4 linked regions of the Homo sapiens genome follow. The protein of the gene in region 1 interacts with the protein of each later gene in a biochemical or structural test. Each region holds a gene or a part of one and is shown in the gene's direction. Other genes may lie near its edges.

The links.
Region 2: of the proteins of HNF1A (region 1) and DYRK1B, one has a biochemical effect on the other in vitro, tested with the Homo sapiens proteins (2 studies listed by IntAct, with this or other methods).
Region 3: the proteins of HNF1A (region 1) and PCBD1 form a complex in vitro, tested with the Homo sapiens proteins (one study listed by BioGRID).
Region 4: the proteins of HNF1A (region 1) and CDX2 form a complex in vitro, tested with the Homo sapiens proteins (one study listed by BioGRID).

What each region holds. Positions count from the first base shown.
Region 1 is NC_000012.12:120,973,565-120,981,581, forward strand, and holds the start of HNF1A (hepatocyte nuclear factor 1-alpha), read left to right. Parts: upstream 1-4,978; 5' UTR 4,979-5,204; coding exon 5,205-5,530; intron 5,531-8,017. UniProt on the Homo sapiens protein: Transcriptional activator that regulates the tissue specific expression of multiple genes, especially in pancreatic islet cells and in liver. Binds to the inverted palindrome 5'-GTTAATNATTAAC-3'.
Region 2 is NC_000019.10:39,824,849-39,831,200, reverse strand, and holds the end of DYRK1B (dual specificity tyrosine-phosphorylation-regulated kinase 1B), read left to right. Parts: intron 1-417; coding exon 418-537; intron 538-637; coding exon 638-826; intron 827-1,173; coding exon 1,174-1,321; intron 1,322-1,398; exon of another isoform or gene 1,399-1,485; intron 1,486-2,617; coding exon 2,618-2,904; intron 2,905-3,544; coding exon 3,545-3,691; intron 3,692-3,775; coding exon 3,776-3,916; intron 3,917-4,213; coding exon 4,214-4,529; intron 4,530-4,914; coding exon 4,915-5,021; intron 5,022-5,114; coding exon 5,115-5,486; 3' UTR 5,487-5,851; downstream 5,852-6,352.
Region 3 is NC_000010.11:70,882,974-70,885,568, reverse strand, and holds the end of PCBD1 (pterin-4-alpha-carbinolamine dehydratase), read left to right. Parts: intron 1-336; coding exon 337-417; intron 418-1,520; coding exon 1,521-1,619; 3' UTR 1,620-2,059; downstream 2,060-2,595. UniProt on the Homo sapiens protein: Involved in tetrahydrobiopterin biosynthesis. Seems to both prevent the formation of 7-pterins and accelerate the formation of quinonoid-BH2. Coactivator for HNF1A-dependent transcription.
Region 4 is NC_000013.11:27,960,387-27,966,323, reverse strand, and holds the end of CDX2 (homeobox protein CDX-2), read left to right. Parts: intron 1-1,284; coding exon of another isoform or gene 1,285-1,308; coding exon 1,309-1,454; intron 1,455-2,954; coding exon 2,955-3,209; 3' UTR 3,210-5,406; downstream 5,407-5,937.

The sequences.
Region 1 (8,017 bases):
GAGTTTGAGACCAGCCTGGCAAACATGGTGAAACCCTGTCTCTACCAAAAATACAAAAATTAGCCAGGCATGGTGGTGTGTGCCTGTAGTCCCAGCTACTCAGGAGGCTAAGGTAGGAGGATTGCTCGAACCCAGGAGGCAGAGGTTACAGTGAGCTGAGATCGCACCACTGTACTCCAGCCTGGGTGACAAAGTGAGGCTCTGTCTCAAAAATAAAAATAAAACATAAATGCACTGGAGGAAAGAGGGTACCACTCTCCTTAAGGCGGGGGCTGCCAACTTGTCCTGCACAGCCCGTCCGCCTGCCTCAGGTGGACTTAAAGCCCAGCTCTGAGGGACTCTGAGCAGTCATTTAACCTCTCTGAGCCTCTCTTTCCTCCCCTGCAGAAGGGGGATTATAACAGTTCCTAATTCATGAGTTGTTCTTGGAGTGAAATACATTACTGGCCAGGTGAGATGGCTCATGCCTGTAATCCCAACACTTTGGGAGGCTGAGGTGAGAGGATTGCTTGAGCCCAGGAGTTCGAGACCAGCCTGGGCAACAAAGCAAGACCCCCATCTCTAAGAAAAGTAAATAAATAGGCAGGGTGCAGTGGCTCACCCCTGTAATCCCAGCACCTTGGGAGGACGAGGTGGGCAGATGGCTTGGGCTCAGGAGTTTGAGACCAGCCTGGGCAATGTGGCAAACTCTTGTCTCTACTAAAAAATACAAAAATTAGCGAGGCATGGTGGCACACGCTTGTAGTCCCAGCTATTGGAGAGGCTGAGGTGGGAGGATCACGGGAGCCCCAGAAGCATAGGTTGCAGTTTGCCAAGATTGTGCCACTGCACTCCAGCTCGGGCGACAGAAGGAGACCCTGTCTCAAAAAACAAACAAAAAAGATAAATATATAAATGAAGCTGGGCATGATGGTGCGTACCTGTAGTTCCAGCTACTTGGGATGCTGAGGTGGGAGGATTGCTTGAAGCCAGGAGTTCTAGGCTGAAGTGAGCTATGATCATGCCAGCCTGGGTGACAGAGTAAGAATCTGGCTCTTAAAAAAATAAAAAGTAAAATGGAACAGGTGAAGTTATTTTCTTTAATTTTTAAAATAAAAAGTTATTTTTATAAATAAAATTTTAATTTAAACCAAATTATTTTAAACTAAATATAACATTATATTTGTATAATATATAAATAATATTTTAATTAAATCTAATTTAAAATTATTCTAAATGTTAACTTTTTTTTTTTTTTTTTTTTTTTGAGAGGGAGTCTCGCTCTGTCGCCCAGGCTGGAGTACAGTGGCGCGATCTCGGCTCACTGCAAGCTCCGCATCCTGGGTTCACGCCATTCTCCTGCCTCAGCCTCCTAAGTAGCTGGGACTACAGGCGCCCGCCACCACGCCAGGCTAATTTCTTGTATTTTTAGTAGAGACGGGGTTTCACCATGTTAGGCAGGATGGTCTCAATCTCCTGACCTTGTGATCCGCCCACCTCGGCCTCCCAAAGTGCTGAGATTACAGGCGTGAGCCACCGCGCCCGGCCTAAATGTTAACTTTTAAATTGTCTTTTTTTTTTTTTTTTTTTTTTTTGAGACAGTGTCTTGCTGTATCACCCAGGCCAGAGTGCAGTGGCATGATCTTGGTTCACTGCCACCTCCGCCTCCCAGGTTCAAGTGATTTTCCTGCCTCAGCCTCCTGAGGTTAATTTTTGTATTTTTATTACAGATGGGGTTTCACCATATTGGTCAGGGTGGTCTCGAACTCCTGACCTCAGGTGATCTACCCACCTTGGCCTCCCAAAAGTGCTGGGATTACAGGCGTTAGCCACCACGCCCGGCCAAAATTTTCTTAATTTAAAAATTTAACTCAATATATTTTTTAAAAATTATCATTTCAAGAAGTGACATTAGCCATCTTTCAAGTGCTTGGTAGCCACATGTGGCTGGTGGGTGAGGGCAGGGCCTGTTTTTTTTTTTTTTTTTTTTTTTGAGACAGAGTTTTGCTCTTGTTGCCCAAACTGGAGTGCAATGGCGTGATCTCGGCTCACTGCAACCTCCGCCTCCTGGGTTCAAGTGATTCTCCTGTCTCAGCCTCCTGCGTGCATCACCATGCCCAGCTTTTTAAATTTTTAGTAGAAATGGGGTTTCATCATGTTAGCCAGGCTGGTCTCAAATTCCTGACCTCAGGTGATCCACCCACCTCGGCCTCCCAAAGTACTGGGATTACAGGCATGAGCCACTGTGCCTGGCCACAGGGCCTGTATTTAGATGTTTGCTATTTTGTTCAGCACAGATTATTTTACATTAGTTAAAAAATATTTTTTGAGGCCGGGCATGGTGGCTCACACCTGTAATCCCAGCACTTTGTGGGGCTGAGATGGGAGGATCTCTTGAGTCCAGGAGTTTGAGACCAGCCTGGGCAACATGGTGAAACTCCGTCTCTACCAAAAATACAAAAAAAAAAAAAAAAAAAATTAGCTGGGTGCAGTGGTGCACACCTGTAGTCCCAGCTACTCGGGAGGCTGAGGTAGAAGGATGATTTGAGCCCAGGAGGCGGAGGTTGCAGTGAGCCCAGATCATGCCATTGCACTCTAGCTTGGGCAACAGAGCCAAACCCTGTCTCAAAAAATAAAAATAAATAAAAATGAAAAAAAAAATCAGAATTGCACACATGAAATGGGTGAATTGTATGGTAAGTATATCTCAATAAAGCTACAACAATATTTTTATTGATTTACATACCATCAAACTCGCCCTTTTAAAATGTGCAATTCATTGGGTTTTAATAAAGTCACAGAGTTGTCCGATATCACCACAATCAATTGTAGAACATTTTTATCATCCTAAAGAAACCCAGCACCATGGAGTGGCCACTCCCCATTCCCTTCTCCCACCCAGGCCCTGACAACCACAAATCCACTTCCTGTCTCTATGGATTTGCCTGTTCTGGACATTTCAGATAAATGGACTCACACACTATGTAGTCTTTAGTGACCACTTTTTCACTTAGCATCATGTTTTCAAGGCTCATGCATGTTGTGGCATGTACTGGAACTCCATTCCTTTATATGACCAAATAATATACCATTGCATTGGCTGGATGCGGTGGCTCATGCCTGTAATCCCAGCACTTTGGGGGGCCAAGGCGAGGGCATCACCTAAGGTCAGGAGTTCGAGACTAGTCTGGCCAACATGGTAAAACCCCATCTCTACCAAAAATACAAAAATTAGCTGGGCGTGGTGGTACATACCTGTAGTTCCAGATACTCGGGAGGCTCAGGCAGGAGAATTGCTTGAACCCGGGAGGCGGAGGTTGCAGTGAGCCAAGATTGCACCACTGCACTCCAGCCTGGGCAACAGAGCGAGACCCCCATCTCAAAAAAAAAAAAAAAGAAAGAAAAAAATATATATGTCTATACCATTGCATGGTCAAGCCATATTTTGTTTATATATTCATCAGGTGATGAATATTTATGTTTTTTCCACTTTTTGGCTCTTGTGAATAATGCTGCTATGAGCATTCACGCACAAGTTTTTGTATAGACATCTGTTTTTAATTCTTTGGGGTTTTGCATTCATTTTAATTTTAAAAACATATTGCATAAAAATGTTATTTACCTTGATGACTGGGTTTTTTGGCATTCCCTTAAAATTTGCACCTGGGCTGCCAGGCATGGTGGCGCACGCCTGTAATCCTAACACTTTGGGAGGCTGAGGTGGGCGGATGGCTTGAGTCCAGGAGTTTGAGACCAACCTGGGCAGCATGGCAAGACCCTGTCTCCACAAAAAATACACACACAAGGCCGGGCACAGTGGCTCACACCTGTAATCCCAGCACTTTGGGAGGCCGAGGCGGACGAATCACTTGAGGTCAAGAGTTCAAGACCAGCCTGGCCAACATGGTGAAACCCCAACTCAATAAAGAATACAAAAAAATTAGCCGGGTGTAGTGGTATGTGCCTGTAATCCCAGCTACTCCGGAGGCTGAGGCAGGGGAATCGCTTGAACCTGGGAGGCGGAGGTTGCAGTGAGCCAAGATTGCTCCACTGCACTCCAAGCCTGGGTGACAGAGTGAGACTCTGTCTCAAAAACACACACACACACAACCCAAACACACACAACACACACACACAAAATCAGCTGGGTGTCGTGGTGCGTGCCTGTAGTGCCAGCTACTTGGGTACTTGGGTGGCTGAGGCGGGAGGATCACCTGAACCCAGGAAGTCAAGGCTGCAGTAAGCCATGATCGCGCCACAGCACTCCAGCCTGGGTGACAAAGTGAGAACATAGCTCAAAAAATAAAAAAATAAATTTGCACCTGAGGCAAGTGTCACACTCATCCCAACTCAGTCTCACCTTGCATGTTTTCTGCCTTGCTGGCTGTATGACCCTGGACAAGTTACTTAACCGCTCAGAGCCTCGATTTCCTCCTCTATAAAATGGGGATAATCTCTGTAACTGCTCACAGTTGGTAGCAGAATGCAATGAAGTGAATTCGCCCTCACAGAGCCAGCACTGTTCTTGGCACATGGTAATCTTAACATATTTTTTCCTACAGGGAGGCCTGGTGTCAGGCCGGGAGTGGGGTGGAAGGGTCCCAAAATGGATGGAAGGGCCCCAAAATGGCCGTGAGCATCCTCTGCCCTTGAGAAGAGCTAGCCCAGCTGTCTAGAGCTCCCTGCTGCTGCCGCTCTCGTAAGCAGCAAGCATTTTTGGCTCTCCTGTCTCAGCATGATGCCCCTACAAGGTTCTTTCGGGGGTGGGACCCAACGCTGCTCTCCTGATGGCCTCCCTGGCTCCCAGCACCTTCCATCCCAGCTGCTCAGGGCCCCTCACCTGCGCCTCCCCCACCCTCCCCTCTGCCCACTCCCATCGCAGGCCATAGCTCCCTGTCCCTCTCCGCTGCCATGAGGCCTGCACTTTGCAGGGCTGAAGTCCAAAGTTCAGTCCCTTCGCTAAGCACACGGATAAATATGAACCTTGGAGAATTTCCCCAGCTCCAATGTAAACAGAACAGGCAGGGGCCCTGATTCACGGGCCGCTGGGGCCAGGGTTGGGGGTTGGGGGTGCCCACAGGGCTTGGCTAGTGGGGTTTTGGGGGGGCAGTGGGTGCAAGGAGTTTGGTTTGTGTCTGCCGGCCGGCAGGCAAACGCAACCCACGCGGTGGGGGAGGCGGCTAGCGTGGTGGACCCGGGCCGCGTGGCCCTGTGGCAGCCGAGCCATGGTTTCTAAACTGAGCCAGCTGCAGACGGAGCTCCTGGCGGCCCTGCTCGAGTCAGGGCTGAGCAAAGAGGCACTGATCCAGGCACTGGGTGAGCCGGGGCCCTACCTCCTGGCTGGAGAAGGCCCCCTGGACAAGGGGGAGTCCTGCGGCGGCGGTCGAGGGGAGCTGGCTGAGCTGCCCAATGGGCTGGGGGAGACTCGGGGCTCCGAGGACGAGACGGACGACGATGGGGAAGACTTCACGCCACCCATCCTCAAAGAGCTGGAGAACCTCAGCCCTGAGGAGGCGGCCCACCAGAAAGCCGTGGTGGAGACCCTTCTGCAGTAAGGAGCCCTGCCCCGTCCCCGCTCCCAGGAGAGCCTAGAGGGGCCCCCCTCAGCTCCTAACGAGCCCCCCTTCTGAGTTGAGTCCCCATGACCTTCAGCCTTTAGCCTAGTTGCTGGGAAGGGGGACAGGGCCCATGAGAGCCCAGGGGTCCTTGCTTGGAGGTTTGAGCCTCCAGCCCCTGAACTGCTCCTCTGCAGAGTCCCAAATCCCATGAGCCCAGGCCTTTAGCCCAGTCCTTGGGCAAGGGGGACATTTCCCAGGGGGGTCCAAGATGGGAGAAAAAGCAGGTGAGTTCACAACTCAAATGCCTGGAGAACTGGGAGGTGGTGGAAATTTTTAGCCACTCTGATCATTTATACTCTCCAGACCCTAACTCCTGCACTGAGTCCTCAGTGGGTAGGCTCCGGGGCCCAGGAAGCACTGCCAGGGAGGAGGGCCCGAAGCTGGGGTTTGGGGGCTTTCCTGGCCTCCTAGGGACTCATGCGTTTAGCCAGGGAAGCCCAGGTCTTTCTTACCTGAGGCAGACAGAGCCTCGAGGTGGGAGCTGCTCCCCTTTCCTGTATGGCCACAGGCACCCCACCTCACCAGCAGGCGCCATTAGAGGCTGCCCGTTCTACATCCCCATCCGCTGGCGGACTCCCCGTCTCCTGGAGAACTGGGTGGGTCCTGAGCTCGATGCCTCCCCTCTCCTCAGCAGAGCTGACCTAGTTACTAATTACCCATGTGCTTTATTATTTCTCTTTTGTTTTATAAATTTATAAATGGCAAAAGGCTCTGATAAGGTCTGTGATCATTAACTTGTAGGAATGGTGGCCTGGAAAGATCTGGGCCAACCCACCTCCCACCTAGTGGGGGTGGGGGATGGGGGTGTGGGGGAGAAGGAAGGATGGCCTGGGGGCTACAGGGGCCACCCCTCCCCAGCGGCTCCCTGACCTCCACCCTACAGCGCCTGCTTGAGGAGGTTCACTACTTCCTGGGCGCTGTGCTGAGGTTTCACAGGAATAATTTCCCTTCATGGTGAGGAGTCCTGGGCAGAAGCTATTGGTGACTCTGCTTCACAAATGGGGAAACTGGGGCTTAGAGCCGGGAAGGAGCTAGACTAAGTTCACCAAACTGAGGCCCCAAACCTACTCTGTTCGGTGCTCTCAATTGCTATGACCGGGGACCAGAGGCCTGCAGGGGGTGGCCAGGGAGTCAGAGAGAGACCGAGCCCCAAAGATGCTCCAAAGGGGCCCATCTCTTTTCTGTCCAAGGTCCTGATCCCAGCTGGGGTGGGGGAGGGCTGGTGGATTCCTGCTTTCCCAGAGGCCTCAGGGAGCCTCCCGAGGGCCTGGACAGGGGGCAGGGGAGCAGTCAGGGCCCCCTGACTTGGCAGGAAGAGGAGGGCAAAGGACTCCAGAGCTGCAGGGGAGGGGCAAAGAGTCAGGCATCCCAGACCCAGGGCGAAGGCAACCTGACGGGGTGGGGCTGGGCCTGACCTGCCCAGGGCCCCAGATGGGACTGGGGGCTTTGGGGTGAGGGTGGGGGCAGGGGATGCTTTCTTACCTGGCTGAGTGAGCTCTCTCGGTCAGCAGCCCCCTTTGGTGGGATGGTGGGGTTGGGGAGGCTTGATCCACAGCATTTGAAGGGGAAGCAGAGGTCAAAGTGCTTCCTAGGGACCAGCAGAGACCTGGAAGCTGAGGCAGAGAGTGTAGAGAGAGGCCATTGGGGGAGATGGACAGAGAAGCTGGGAGAAGCAGAACGGAGGAGCCAGGGGGGCGGGGGCTCAGACCCAGCTGGGAGAAGGGGCACGGGAGAGAATGAGGCGCCCCAAGCTTGCAAGGAGGCTGGAGTGCTTCCCGCCTGCCCCGATTGGGTTTTCTTTAATGCTAACAGCATGCTATTTACTTTCCATTTAAATTTGAGATGTTGCTATAAATTATCAACCAGCTCCTTGTTCCTGCAGAGTTTATAACTAACTACCTGGGTTACTTATTGTTCAGGTAACAAAAGGGATCGGAAAACGCCCTGAGTGAAAAAAGTGGGGCCTCCAGCGTCAGGGTCAGGAAAGGAGCCAGGGAGAGAGGGGCGGGGGACCCCTATTGAAGGCCTGGGCCATTGGGGAGGTTGAGGCTGGGAAGACGGTACAGAGGCAGAATGTCTAGTAGAAGCTGTTTCCCGGGAGAAGTCAGTGTCTGGGAAGAAGCCGGGGTGGGTCCTGGGTCCCAGGCCTCCCTGGGGTGCCCCATGTTGGTGGCCACAGCAGGAACCTGAGCTCTTTCTTCAGATCTCCCCCTTAGCTCCCTGAGTGACCTTGGGAAAGTCTGTTCCTCTCCTTCTGCCTCAGTTTCCCTCCCTGGCCAAGGAATAAAGTCCAAACTCCCTGCCTTGGTTTCGTTCCCCTCCCTCCACCCCACCAAATTCCTGGATCTCTTCCCAGGTCTTTCTCTTCCTCTCGGCCTTTGCTGCAGTCATTTTGGCTTTGCTGTTCCTCAGTACCCCAA
Region 2 (6,352 bases), on another chromosome or scaffold:
AGTATGGGTTGAGGCCCAAGGGATGAGGGTAAATTGAGATAGAGGTACTTCAGAGGGTACCCAAAATGGCTGGCTTCAAAGTGAAGAATGGGGAGGAACAGAGCCCAGGTTTTCCATATGATCTCTCCCTCTGAGGTTCAGAAAGGAGTAAAGGTGAGGGGTGAAAGGTCAGAGTTCACTCATTCACACCACAGATCTCTAAGAGCATCCATTGTGTGCCAGGCCCTGCTGTAGGCACTGGAGGTATAGTAAGAACAAGAGAAAGTCTCAGCCCTGGGGGAGTTTCTTTCCTAGACAGGTGGAACAAATACAGACAGCAACCAAATACATGATGTGCCAGCAGCCCTTACAGTTCTTCCTCTTGAGGTCGGAGGTGAAGGCACGTCCTCAGTGCCCACCCCTCACCCTGCCCTGCAGGTATTGCCTGATGTGCGGCTACTGCCTCGGAGGCTGCCCCTGGCCTTCCGGGATGCAACCTCAGCCCCGCTGCGTAAGCTCTCTGTGGACCTCATCAAGACCTACAAGCACATCAATGAGGTGGGCAGGGGCTGGGGGATCCTGGGCTGGGTGCCGAGGGTCTTGTCTGCTGGCATGAGTCACTCACCAGTCCCCATCTCCTGGCTGGCTGGCTGGGCAGGTATACTATGCGAAGAAGAAGCGGCGGGCCCAGCAGGCGCCACCCCAGGATTCGAGCAACAAGAAGGAGAAGAAGGTCCTGAACCATGGTTATGATGACGACAACCATGACTACATCGTGCGCAGTGGCGAGCGCTGGCTGGAGCGCTACGAAATTGACTCGCTCATTGGCAAAGGCTCCTTTGGCCAGGTGTGGGACACCCCCCACCACCCTGATCCAAGGCCCCACTAACATTGATCACACACCCAGTGGTTCAGTGGCTTCAAGTCCCATGCTGGGCCACTCACCCTAGCCCACTTAGTTTCCCTGTGCCTCAGTCGCCTTTTCTGTAAAACAGTTTAAATAACAAGACTCAACATAAGGTCGTTATGTTATTTCACATCCAGTGTTTACACCAGCGCCTGACTAATGGTGCGCACTCAGCTGCGAAGTATGCATAGTGTTCTTGGTGGGTCTCCTTGCCTGGAGGGAGAAGAATGGTGCCTGGCTCTGCCCTGCTCCCACCCCTTTCTTCGTGACATGCCCTGCCCCAACAGGTGGTGAAAGCCTATGATCATCAGACCCAGGAGCTTGTGGCCATCAAGATCATCAAGAACAAAAAGGCTTTCCTGAACCAGGCCCAGATTGAGCTGCGGCTGCTGGAGCTGATGAACCAGCATGACACGGAGATGAAGTACTATATAGGTGAGGCCTGGGACTGGCAGGGCTGTGGGCACCTGGGATAGCGGGAGCTGGAGCCAGTAGGGATGGGTCACACCCCCGCCCTACTCTCAGGAGGAGGCTGATGTCTTCAGAGCAGGGTTTGGTCTGTGCTTCTCTGACATCAGTGATTCTCCTGCTGCTTTTATGATTTTTGTCCTATTTTCTTGGTAATGGTCAGAGGTTACTGAGTGCTCACCAAGGGCCAGGCTCTCTTGGAAGCACTTGGAAGTTAACTCACCACAGCCCATAAGGGGAAGGGCATTATTAACAACATCTTGAAGATAAGAAACCTGGGCTTCCATCCTAGTTTCTTCTTCAATAAAACAAACAAAACGGGCTGGGCACAGTGGCTCACGCCTGTAATCCCAGCACTTTTGGAGGCCGAGGTGGGCGGATCATGATATCAAGAGATCGAGACCATCCTGGCCAACATGGTGAAACCCCGTCTCTACTAAAAATGTGAAAAAATTAGCTTGATGTGGTGGTGCGCGCCTGTAGTCCCAGCTACTCAGGAGGCTGAGGCAGGAGAATCGCTTGAACCTGGGAGGCGGAGGTTACAGTGAGCTGGGACCACGCCACTGCACTCCAGCCTGATGACAGAGCGAGACTCCATCTCAAAAAAAAAAAAACCCAAAACAAACAAAAAACCAAACCTAATAACAACAACAACAGTTACAACAACAACAAAAAAAAACGAAGAAAGGAAAAAAGAAACTCAGGCATTCAAGTGCTGTCACTTGCATGAGGTGGCAGTTTGTACTAATTGAGCTATAATTTGATGAGGTCGTGGACTCCAGAGCTGTTACTCTTAACATCTGTGCCAGTCTTTCTCCTCCCTTAAACTGATTCCTGCTCATGGACATAAACATCACAACATAATCATAAACAGCAAGTGGATTTTAAAATGGTTTCGTTTGAAAGGAAAACGTATATCCTTAAAGTAAACGGAAAACCAGTGTCCTTTGCCACAAAAATGAATACAAGGGAGATGAAAGCAGTGTTATGAAATTAAATGAGGAAGTGTAGAATGTGTTAGAGCTAGTAGTAACTAATGAAACTTTCTCTTTGGTTTAATTGGAGGGTTTGACAGAGACTTGGAAAGAGCATTAACTTCCTGTGTGAATCTAGTTGTTAGATAAAAAGATTTTGACTAGCAGATGGTACCCGTGGGGACAGCACAATGTGGCTAGTAATCAAAGAGCGTTGTATGACCCCAGGCCACCACCTGCCCTCTCTGAGCCGTTTCTTCTCTGGCCCATTTCCTCCCCTCCCCCGCAGTACACCTGAAGCGGCACTTCATGTTCCGGAACCACCTGTGCCTGGTATTTGAGCTGCTGTCCTACAACCTGTACGACCTCCTGCGCAACACCCACTTCCGCGGCGTCTCGCTGAACCTGACCCGGAAGCTGGCGCAGCAGCTCTGCACGGCACTGCTCTTTCTGGCCACGCCTGAGCTCAGCATCATTCACTGCGACCTCAAGCCCGAAAACATCTTGCTGTGCAACCCCAAGCGCAGCGCCATCAAGATTGTGGACTTCGGCAGCTCCTGCCAGCTTGGCCAGAGGGTAGGGGGCGGCCCGGTCCTGGGAGCACGGCTAGTAGTTTGGGTGGGGCAGAGCCAACGGGAGGCTTAGGGGCGGGGCTTGGCTGGGATGGGATTATTAGGAGCCGTGGGAACTGAGGGATAATGCTTGGGGTGGGGGTGTGAATATACTGCCCACTAGGATGGGAAGGGTGAAGCCTGAGGGGCAGGGCCCATTTTGAAGCTGCCAGATGTGAACAGGGTGAAGTTGGGTTGGGTTTGAGCCAGGGGTGCTGCCTCGCTAAGTTTTTGTCTTCTCTGTTCTTAAAGCTGAGGATGGAGGTGGAAGGCTTCAACTTTGCAGCTCTGTATGAGCTGCCACTAAAAGTGACGATGGTATAGGGCTTATGGAATGTCAGCCTCTGCCTGGTGACCCAGAAGGGCCCAGGATCCGGGTTGGGGGTGGAGATCAGGGTCTGTCTAGGCCAGCAGACTCCCCAGATTGATAAACAAGATGGCACCAGTGGCTCCCAGAAAATTGGTGCTGATAATGGCAGGATTTGGAGCCTCAGTCCCCATTTTGTCAGCAAGAAGCCTGTCCTCAGTTGGGTCCTCTTAGCTTTGGGGGTGTCAGTGGGACCAGTAGGGGAGGCTGGGTCCCTTGACGATTACCCTTTTCCCAGATCTACCAGTATATCCAGAGCCGCTTCTACCGCTCACCTGAGGTGCTCCTGGGCACACCCTACGACCTGGCCATTGACATGTGGTCCCTGGGCTGCATCCTTGTGGAGATGCACACCGGAGAGCCCCTCTTCAGTGGCTCCAATGAGGTGTGCCCCCAGGAAGGGGTGTGCTGGAGGTGGAGGGGGTGGAGCCTGGCTGGCCTGATGACCTTGACCCCTGCCTGCTCACAGGTCGACCAGATGAACCGCATTGTGGAGGTGCTGGGCATCCCACCGGCCGCCATGCTGGACCAGGCGCCCAAGGCTCGCAAGTACTTTGAACGGCTGCCTGGGGGTGGCTGGACCCTACGAAGGACGAAAGAACTCAGGAAGGTGCGGCCCCTGCCCCATGCCACTCCTCCCACCCCGTGGCCCCTCACTCACACTTGGGGCTCTCTCCCCCTGCTCCCTCTCCCTTGTGTCTTTCCCTTCCTTCCACTCCCCCTTGTCTGTCCTTTCCTTCCTCCCCTGCCCACCCCATCTCCCATCTCTCCTTCCCACCCCACAACTCTTCTTAGCTTTTCTTTCCACTTTCTCTCTTGTGCCTCTGTTTCCCCGTGTGTGTCTCCCTGCCCCTCCTGCCCACTGACGGCCACTCTCTTGCCCCCCCTCCCACCCCCTCCCTGCCAGGATTACCAGGGCCCCGGGACACGGCGGCTGCAGGAGGTGCTGGGCGTGCAGACGGGCGGGCCCGGGGGCCGGCGGGCGGGGGAGCCGGGCCACAGCCCCGCCGACTACCTCCGCTTCCAGGACCTGGTGCTGCGCATGCTGGAGTATGAGCCCGCCGCCCGCATCAGCCCCCTGGGGGCTCTGCAGCACGGCTTCTTCCGCCGCACGGCCGACGAGGCCACCAACACGGGCCCGGCAGGCAGCAGTGCCTCCACCTCGCCCGCGCCCCTCGACACCTGCCCCTCTTCCAGCACCGCCAGCTCCATCTCCAGTTCTGGTGGGTGCCCAGGTGCCCAAATGGGGTACAACGGGTGGGGGCTGCTCAGGTTTGGCCTGTCCTGGGGGACCTGGTTACTGGGTCTTCACACAAAGCGCCGAAACTGATCCTGAACTGTAAGATGACGTGTGGGATGGGAGAGCTCCAACTGGCCCTGACACAATCACTGAAATTGGGCTCAGAGCCCTGAAACTGGTTCTGACTCTAAAACCCAAAACTGAATTCCAACCCAGAATCTCAGAATTGGGCCCGGTGCTTCAGATGGGCTCTGCTCTTGAAGCCTGAACCTGAGCCTGGGCCGTGACCTTCCCTCAGCCATCCCAAAACCCACTCGCCACCTTCTCTCACCTTATGCCCCTTCACCTCTCCTCCCTGGCACTTCCAGGAGGCTCCAGTGGCTCCTCCAGTGACAACCGGACCTACCGCTACAGCAACCGATATTGTGGGGGCCCTGGGCCCCCTATCACAGACTGTGAGATGAACAGCCCCCAGGTAATGGGGCTTTGGGGGCTTTGGAGGTGGGTGGTGGTGCCTGGGGCTTAGAGACCAGGGTCTCCATCACCCATGGCTCCTTTGCTTTTTTAGGTCCCACCCTCCCAGCCGCTGCGGCCCTGGGCAGGGGGTGATGTGCCCCACAAGACACATCAAGCCCCTGCCTCTGCCTCGTCACTGCCTGGGACCGGGGCCCAGTTACCCCCCCAGCCCCGATACCTTGGTCGTCCCCCATCACCAACCTCACCACCACCCCCGGAGCTGATGGATGTGAGCCTGGTGGGCGGCCCTGCTGACTGCTCCCCACCTCACCCAGCGCCTGCCCCCCAGCACCCGGCTGCCTCAGCCCTCCGGACTCGGATGACTGGAGGTCGTCCACCCCTCCCGCCTCCTGATGACCCTGCCACTCTGGGGCCTCACCTGGGCCTCCGTGGTGTACCCCAGAGCACAGCAGCCAGCTCGTGACCCTGCCCCCTCCCTGGGGCCCCTCCTGAAGCCATACCCTCCCCCATCTGGGGGCCCTGGGCTCCCATCCTCATCTCTCTCCTTGACTGGAATTGCTGCTACCCAGCTGGGGTGGGTGAGGCCTGCACTGATTGGGGCCTGGGGCAGGGGGGTCAAGGAGAGGGTTTTGGCCGCTCCCTCCCCACTAAGGACTGGACCCTTGGGCCCCTCTCCCCCTTTTTTTCTATTTATTGTACCAAAGACAGTGGTGGTCCGGTGGAGGGAAGACCCCCCCTCACCCCAGGACCCTAGGAGGGGGTGGGGGCAGGTAGGGGGAGATGGCCTTGCTCCTCCTCGCTGTACCCCCAGTAAAGAGCTTTCTCACATGCCTGCCTGAGCGTTTGCAGGGCCTCGGCTCCCCTCACCCGACCCTCAGAGGCATGGTGGGGAAGGGGGTTTGCGGAGGGGGTGCTGGAGGAGCTCTGGTGTGGAGACGTCTCGTGGGGAAGCTGTGGCGCGTGTTGCAGGCATGAGTCTGCAGGTCTGGGGCATCAGCATTCTAGATAGATCGTGGACAGGATCCTGGCCTACATTTGCCTTTTCCTGGGTAAATAGACCCTGAAAGGGTAAAGGTTCAGCTCTGGCCTGTCTCTGGGAAACAGGTGCCCTAATAAGCCGGGGCGTCCGCAGACTTAGCACAAGAGTGGCTCCTCATGCCAAGCAGGCGTCCAGTAGCAGCTGAGTACACTTAGGAGGCTTTGTTGGTGCCATCTGGGGAACAGGCAGACAATAGGTACAGACTCTGTCCCCACGTGTACTGTCCAGCTCTTTGGAATCATCGCGAAACAAAGAGTTTTGAGATTCTGAGACAAAAAGATTTTCCCGGG
Region 3 (2,595 bases), on another chromosome or scaffold:
GGAACTTTTAGCAGCAGTCTTCTGAGGAGATAGTTCAAGTGGAAACCATGCACATCTGAAGACATTTGAACAGACGGCCAAGACTGGCCAGGCCAAAAGCCTGTTGTGGTGTTTCCACCTTGTTGACATCCTAAATAGCAAGACTTTCTTCCTACTGCAAGGACAATCTCTAACTCAAGCCTGAGAACCAGTGACAGGATGTCAAGGGGGAAATGATTATAGAGGAGTCTCCTGGGGGGAAGCTAATTCATCCTCCTGCGTCTAGGCCTTGAATTGGTGATGTCCAGAAGTCCTTTCTCTTAGAACACTAACCTGGCTCTCACTCCACTTAAATAGGCCTTTGGGTTCATGACAAGAGTGGCCCTGCAGGCTGAGAAACTGGACCACCATCCTGAATGGTTTAACGTGTACAACAAGGTGAGTGATGCTGTGTGCCTCTGTTGTGCTCTGCCCCCATCCAAATACTGCGAACTCTGACACATTCTGAAGGCTTTTGGACTTAACAATGAGCCTTCCTGACCCATAGGTCATCCACTCATCTCATTTCCAATCTCACTGAGATTGCACATGCCTAGAATCAACATAAATACCCCTGGGAAAAAAAAATCAGTCTTACTATAAAGAAATGCAAATTAAAAGATGCATGAGATAGTTGTGGTTAAAGTAGACATTTAAGTAGACATTAAGAAGGCAAAACCCAAGAAAGGAAAGGCTGTGGGAATCAGGCATACTTATTCAGTGTTCATAGCTCTAAATGGCTTTAATCTTGCTGGAGGTATGGAAGAATGAAAAAGTAATAAACTTGAACTAAGAATACACACATATTTGGGAGGCCGAGGTGGGCAGATCACGAGGTCAGGAGATCAAGACCCTCCTGGCTAACATGGTGAAACCCTGTCTCTACTAAAAACACAAAAAAATTAGGCGGGCGCGGTGGTGGACGCCTGTAGTCCCAGCTACTGGGGAGGCTGAGGCAGGAGAATGGTGGGAACCCGGGAGGCGGAGCTTGCAGTGAGCAGAGATTGAGCCACTGCACTCCAGCCTGGGAGACAGAGCAAGACTCCGTCTCAAAAAAAAAAAAAAAAAAAAATACAGACACATAGCCAACCTATCAAATTATTTGCTTAATGAATAGAAACAGTCATTAAATGTCTACCATGTGCCAAAAGCTCTGCTGGTCTCTGTTTATAAAAACAGTAAGGGTGGAAGAGGTCGTCTATGAATGGATAGTGTTTAGGAGTTGGCATTGGTTTTTGGTTTTGTCTTTAGCTTTTAGGTTGCTCTTGACATTCAGATATTAAGCTTTTATTCTATAGCTGAAGTCATGATTATTTTTGAGAGACAGCAAAGGGGAGATGTAGAAGATGTTGTTACAGACATGTCAGGAAGGAGTCCCCAGGAGAGATCGTACTGGCCAGCTGCTATTCTGGAGCTCCTAGCAGGGCTGAGCCCAGCAGCTAGTGACTCCCTCCTGTTCTTAAGTGAAGTCAGTGGAAGCAGAATTTCTGGTTTCATTTCAGGTCCACATCACGCTGAGCACCCATGAGTGTGCCGGCCTTTCAGAACGGGACATAAACCTGGCCAGCTTCATCGAACAAGTAGCAGTGTCCATGACATAGACCCTGCCCTTCCTCTTTGAATTCTTCCGGGGGAAGGGGTGACTGAACTGGGAGTCCAGGGAGGGAGCTGAGGAGCCCTTACCCTCCCACCACTCCCCTCCCAAGACCCAGCCGCCGCCGTTGAGGGCTGAGTCCTTGCTGTGGGATGTGCCAGTGTCCCCACCAACACCAGGAATTTAGACCTTTTCCCTGCACCACTCTCTTCATCCTGGGGGCTCTGTTACACTAATTTGAATAAACTCTCCCCTTTCTTTGCAACTTCCCAGCAACAATAATGATTTTCTTGCCAGGCCGTCTCTTGCTCCCTAATTCATTTCCCAGGAAGCTGTGATACAGGGTGAAATAAAGTCTTGTCTTAGAAACCAGGACCCTAAACCCCACACTATGTAATAGAAACACATGTGTTTTTATGTCTCAAATAAAACTATTATATCACTTGGTCTCAGGCTCTAGAAACTTCTTTTCCACAGGTCAATCCAAATTGGAGTCAATAGGCATTTAAATGAAAGCACTTCCTCTGTGCTAGGCACTTCCTCTGTTCAAGGTACTGGAAAATGACAGGGACCAGACCACCTTGCCTTCAGATTCATTATCATCTAGGGGATACCATTTGATTATCATCAAACAGGAACACAATTAACTATTACCAATTACCAATTAACTAGTACTAATTAACTATTACTAGAGTGAATTAATGCTAGGTGGCAGGATAAGAAATGAGCTAAAGGGAACGCAAGTGATTAATGGTGAAAAGGGCAAATCTGGAGGCTTTGAGTTATGCCTTGAAGACCTGGGTAGGATTCTTGGGAGGCAGAGATGGCTGAGAGAACACCATGAACACAGATAAGGGTGTGAAGGGCACAGGTATTATATGCATTGTGGAACCTATGTCTAGAAAGGCAGTCTGGGGCCATATTACAGGTTGAACATCCCTAATTTGAAAATTGGAAATCCAAAATCTGAAACTTTTTGAATG
Region 4 (5,937 bases), on another chromosome or scaffold:
TCATAGCAGGCGCGGGGTCGGGGCCGCAGCCCCATTCAAATGCGCCTGCAGGGTCGTGTTTATGTTAATGCGCCTGGCGGGGAGGGGGATGAAAGCCGGGGCCGCCATTTGCTCAGTAGTGGTAATTCAAACAGAATGTGGTTGTTATTAAGGCATTGAAAGGGCTTTTCTTTGATAAGATCGCCTTGTCCTGCATTGTTTGCGGCTGTGTTGGCCTTTCAGCGGCTCGGGGGAGCTCCCTCTGATCAGGCCTGTATCTTCCCAGGACGCTTTTGTTGTGGTTTGCAAAGGGTTTTACCTGAACAAAGTCAGCCTGCGGGGCATTAAACACCTCCAGGCAACTCCCAGGCCCTTCAGATCTTTCTGTGGGATTGGGCACTGGGCGATTGAACCTGTTCAGCTGCAAGAAGACCCAAAAGTGGGACGGAGCCAGAGAGAACAGCTTCTGGCCAGGGCTCTGCCAAGGGCTGAGCCAAGACAGACCTGGTGGAGACGCCAGGCTCGGGCCTGCTCCAACATTGTGGACACTATTTGTCAAGGCCCTTCAGTAAAACAATCAATCTGGGATTTAATATGTTGACTCAATCCAATGAGCATAGATCACTGGTCAGGATAACTCTGGCCGGATTTGCAGCAGGAATAAATGGAGGATCAAAAAAGAAAAAGTACCAAACGCCAAACCTGGTCTGGGCAGGTATAAAGTGTCCCCAGCAGGAGGGGTTTTCTGCCTGTTCCCTCGGCCAGAGCCCAGCTCAGAATTCCACCTGATGGGCCTGGTGTGTCTGGGGGATGATTCTGGCGACTTGTCAGCTCCTGAGCCCCGCTTTCCACTTGTAGTAAAGCAAAGTAGTAACCCCCACACCCCCTCTACAACATGTGCCCACAATGACAGCTGTTTTCGGGGTGGGCTTCCATCTCTGGTAGGCCTGGAAATCTGGATGCTTCCAGGATCCCGGCCACTTCACCCTGCCCCCTTTCCCTTGGTGTCAAATATATGCCAGTACTGTATTTGGTTTACCGAAAGGGTGGTTACATTCTGCTGTCTTCTGTGTGAATGAGGTTTTCACTTTCCTTAATTTTTAAAAACCACTTAATACCAAGGTTAGTTTAGTTGCCTCCACTAGCCTCATACCCTCCCCCCACAGGACCCTCTGGGGGGTCTTGTCAGACTTGGCAGGAACCAGCCAAACCCGGGCCCCCCAGGGTGGTGGAGGAAGAGAAATGTCCCTGGGTTAGGGAGGTTTGTCATTACCCATGACTGATGGGCTGCCTTGCAGTTCTCAGCCCTCACTTCTCCTTCCTCCACAGTGAAAACCAGGACGAAAGACAAATATCGAGTGGTGTACACGGACCACCAGCGGCTGGAGCTGGAGAAGGAGTTTCACTACAGTCGCTACATCACCATCCGGAGGAAAGCCGAGCTAGCCGCCACGCTGGGGCTCTCTGAGAGGCAGGTGGGGACCGCCTAGCTCCCTCCGGGCGGGCCACTGCCTGGCAGAGGACCATGAGAGTTAGAAAATCTGGCTGCAGGGGCCATCTAAATCTGTGGAGAGACTGAAGCAGGAGGATGCAAGCATTCGTCTTTGGAGTCCTTTTTTTTTTTTTTTTTTTTTTTAAACAGAGATGGGGTCTTGCTTTGTGGCCCAGGCTGGAGTGTAGTGGCACAATCATAGCTCACTGCAGCCCTGACTTCCTGAGCTGAAGGGATCCTCCTGCCTCAGTCACCTGAGTAGCTTGGACTACAGGCTCGAGCCACCATGACTGGCTAATGTTTAAATTTTTTGCAGAGATGGTCTCACTGTCTTACCCAGGTTGGTCTCAAACTCCAAATGCTCCTCCTGTCTTGGACTCCTAAAGTGCTGAGATTACCGGTGTGAACCACCATGCCTGGCCTGGAGTACATGCCCCCCCACCCGCCACCGTCGAAACGCAGTTTCACTCTTGTTGTGCAGGCTGAAGTGCAATGGCGCGGTCTCAGCTCACTGCAACCTCTGCCTCCCGGGTTCAAGCGATTCTCCTGCTTCAGCCTCCCAAATAGCTGGGACTACAGGCATGTGCCACCACGCCCGGCTAATTTTGTATTTTTAGTAGAAATGCGGTTTCTCCATGTTAGTCAGGCTAGTCTCGAACTCCTGGCCTCAGGTGATCCACCCGCCTCGGCCTCCCAAAGTGCTGAGATTACAGGTGTGAGCCACTGTGCCTGGCCCTGGAGTACTTTTTTAAAAAGCCTCCTTCTACCTTTAGTCCTCTTTTTTTGATGTTGTTGATTTTTTCTGTCTCTCTCTTTTGAGGGATATAAGAAGTGTGAAAAACAGCCAAGGGTATTAGTTTAATCCAGAATTCCATTTGGGTCTATAAAGACATATTAAAGACCTATTCTCTTTGTTTCCAGCACTGTACCTAAGAAAATAAACTGAATAAAGTACTCAGTCTCTCACAAAAACTAGAGGGACAAGACTTGGTTCATGAACATTTTATATATATAGTCTAGAAAAACAGGCCAACTTCACAGCCAGGAAGCCACAAAATTAAATCTCATTTTCAGCTCTAAGGTGAGGAAAATTACGTTTTAGTTTAGCCTTGAGGGGCCAAAGGTTGCCATTTGAAGTATACCACCCAGCACTGGCCTCCCTTTGCTGTGTAGAAAGGGCCTTGCAGTTTCAGTTTTCCTTGGTTCTGAGACTTTAAACTTTTGCAGTAAATACGTAGATAAAAGTTGCTTTGAAAAGAAACTCAGGGAGCAAGGAAGGAGGAAGACTCTTCCCCATGAGGCTGAATTGGGCCTAAGAATGGATCCAGGGTTGGGCTGTTATGGGGATGCCCGAGGAAAGCTTCTAGAAGGACTTGGAGTTCTGTAGCTGGAGCAGAAGATGTTGATGATACTGCTGGGTACTGTTCCTCTTTTCCCTCACATCTTCACCACAATGTGCTTTTCTCCACCTTTCCATTTCTAGGTTAAAATCTGGTTTCAGAACCGCAGAGCAAAGGAGAGGAAAATCAACAAGAAGAAGTTGCAGCAGCAACAGCAGCAGCAGCCACCACAGCCGCCTCCGCCGCCACCACAGCCTCCCCAGCCTCAGCCAGGTCCTCTGAGAAGTGTCCCAGAGCCCTTGAGTCCGGTGTCTTCCCTGCAAGCCTCAGTGCCTGGCTCTGTCCCTGGGGTTCTGGGGCCAACTGGGGGGGTGCTAAACCCCACCGTCACCCAGTGACCCACCGGGTTCTGCAGCGGCAGAGCAATTCCAGGCTGAGCCATGAGGAGCGTGGACTCTGCTAGACTCCTCAGGAGAGACCCCTCCCCTCCCACCCACAGCCATAGACCTACAGACCTGGCTCTCAGAGGAAAAATGGGAGCCAGGAGTAAGACAAGTGGGATTTGGGGCCTCAAGAAATATACTCTCCCAGATTTTTACTTTTTCCCATCTGGCTTTTTCTGCCACTGAGGAGACAGAAAGCCTCCGCTGGGCTTCATTCCGGACTGGCAGAAGCATTGCCTGGACTGACCACACCAACCAGGCCTTCATCCTCCTCCCCAGCTCTTCTCTTCCTAGATCTGCAGGCTGCACCTCTGGCTAGAGCCGAGGGGAGAGAGGGACTCAAGGGAAAGGCAAGCTTGAGGCCAAGATGGCTGCTGCCTGCTCATGGCCCTCGGAGGTCCAGCTGGGCCTCCTGCCTCCGGGCAGGCAAGGTTTACACTGCGGAAGCCAAAGGCAGCTAAGATAGAAAGCTGGACTGACCAAAGACTGCAGAACCCCCAGGTGGCCTGCGTCTTTTTTCTCTTCCCTTCCCAGACCAGGAAAGGCTTGGCTGGTGTATGCACAGGGTGTGGTATGAGGGGGTGGTTATTGGACTCCAGGCCTGACCAGGGGGCCCGAACAGGGACTTGTTTAGAGAGCCTGTCACCAGAGCTTCTCTGGGCTGAATGTATGTCAGTGCTATAAATGCCAGAGCCAACCTGGACTTCCTGTCATTTTCACAATCTTGGGGCTGATGAAGAAGGGGGTGGGGGGAGTTTGTGTTGTTGTTGCTGCTGTTTGGGTTGTTGGTCTGTGTAACATCCAAGCCAGAGTTTTTAAAGCCTTCTGGATCCATGGGGGGAGAAGTGATATGGTGAAGGGAAGTGGGGAGTATTTGAACACAGTTGAATTTTTTCTAAAAAGAAAAAGAGATAAATGAGCTTTCCAGATTTCAGATTCTGTATTTATCTTCAGATTTTGTCTGCAACTATTTTTTATTTTTTAAAGAAATGAAATATCTTCTCTGCTTGCAAGCTGATTTGGAAAATTCAGAGAGGGAGTGGAGATTATCTGGACAGCCTCATTTTACCCCAGAGCATCAGAAGCCTGAAAGAGCAGGTTCTGAGACCTTCCCTGCCCCCAAGCCTGAGCCCAGCCTTGGAATGCGTGGCTCTCCTGGGGGTGCCTTTGGGCAAAATGCACATCTGAATGGCCAGGTGCTTCCCAGCAGTCAGAAATTATGGGGGGTGGGGGTGAGAGGGCCCCCTCATAGCATCTCACCAAATCCACATGGAGGCTTTTTGCAAACAGCAGGCAGTTCCCTTCTGCAGTGACTCCCTCCTAAGGACGCCCCACAACCCAGCTAGTTAAACGTGAGCATTAAATTTTTTTTAAAAAAAATCCCCCTAGTTTCCCAAGACAGCATTTCCATGAATTTAGTCTTCTGTAAATCACTGGGCATTTCCGTGAGCCCTTTCTGCCTCCACTCTCTTCTCTGTCTTTGCAGTTTCCTTATCCCCGACCGCGCCCCCCCTTCCAACCCAATCACCCCACAAACAAGATTTCTAGACCCAGTATAAAATGATCCTTTTAGTGACAGTTTCTTGTTATCTGGCCGATCCACTGGGGACCGGGCTGCAGCCTTTAAAATTTTTGATCCTGGAGGCCGCCGAGCTGAACTTTCCGGCAGGACCCGGGCGAGGGGGGCTTAGCCCTTCGTTTCGATCTTCCCACCAACATCCGAGAGCCTAATCAGCGCGCCCACGGAGGCGCCTTAAGGGCAGTTGGGGAAGATGAGCAGAGCCGGGAAACAGCAAGAGGTATAGACCCTCTGCAGCACCTCTCCAATTCCGCGGCCCTTCCGGGTGGCGTATACAGCTCCAGGATTGGGAAAGGGGCTCCGGTGGCCCGGCCCGCGGGCGCCTGGCCTCGAAGCCAGAGGGAGGAGTGCGGGGCGTGGGGTCGGGGGGTGCCGGGCAGAGGAGGAAGCCGTGTCCGGGTCCGCTGGGCGAGGGGTCCTGGGTCAGGGGTCCTGGGTCAGGGCCGGTCTGAGCCCCGGTGCCCCGCAGGTCTCCCCGCGCCCCGGCCGCGCCCACAGGCCCGCCCCCTAGCCGCCGGGGTTGCTATGCGTTGCCGTGAAACGCCTGTCAATAAACCCTGTTTGGACAGTGGAGCAAGAGCACATGGGTTGTTTGCTTAGTGGTTAGAGGTTCAAAAGTCGACATTGTCCCGCTGCAAGCGATTACAAGTTCTTCCCCTTCCCGGGGCTCGGTCCCCTTGCACGCGGGTACGGGGCCAGGGAAGGGAGCTCGGCTGCTCTCTGAGATGCAAGCACCCGGCTCGCTGCTGCGAGCGCCTGGCAAGCCTCCCGGGCCACGGAAAAAGGCGCAAAACCAAGACCCTCTCCGGCAAGTGAGGCCACCGCGCTTCTAACGCCAACTGTGTCACCCCCGAAGCAATACCTACGGAACAAGGGATGTGGCACGAGTAGGGAGCGCAGCTTGAGGAGTGTAGGGAGGCCTGCACAGGGGCGCCTGAGGTTGAGACCGGATGACCTCGCGGCTCCTGACGCCTCCAGCGCAGAGCTTGGGGTCCCGGCCTCCGAATCCCACGCCTCCACCGCGTCCAGTCGCCGGTTCAGGCGCCAGAGGGCGCGCGCGCTCTGGGAAGAGATGGGGCTTGGGCTCGTGAACCCGGAAAGGTT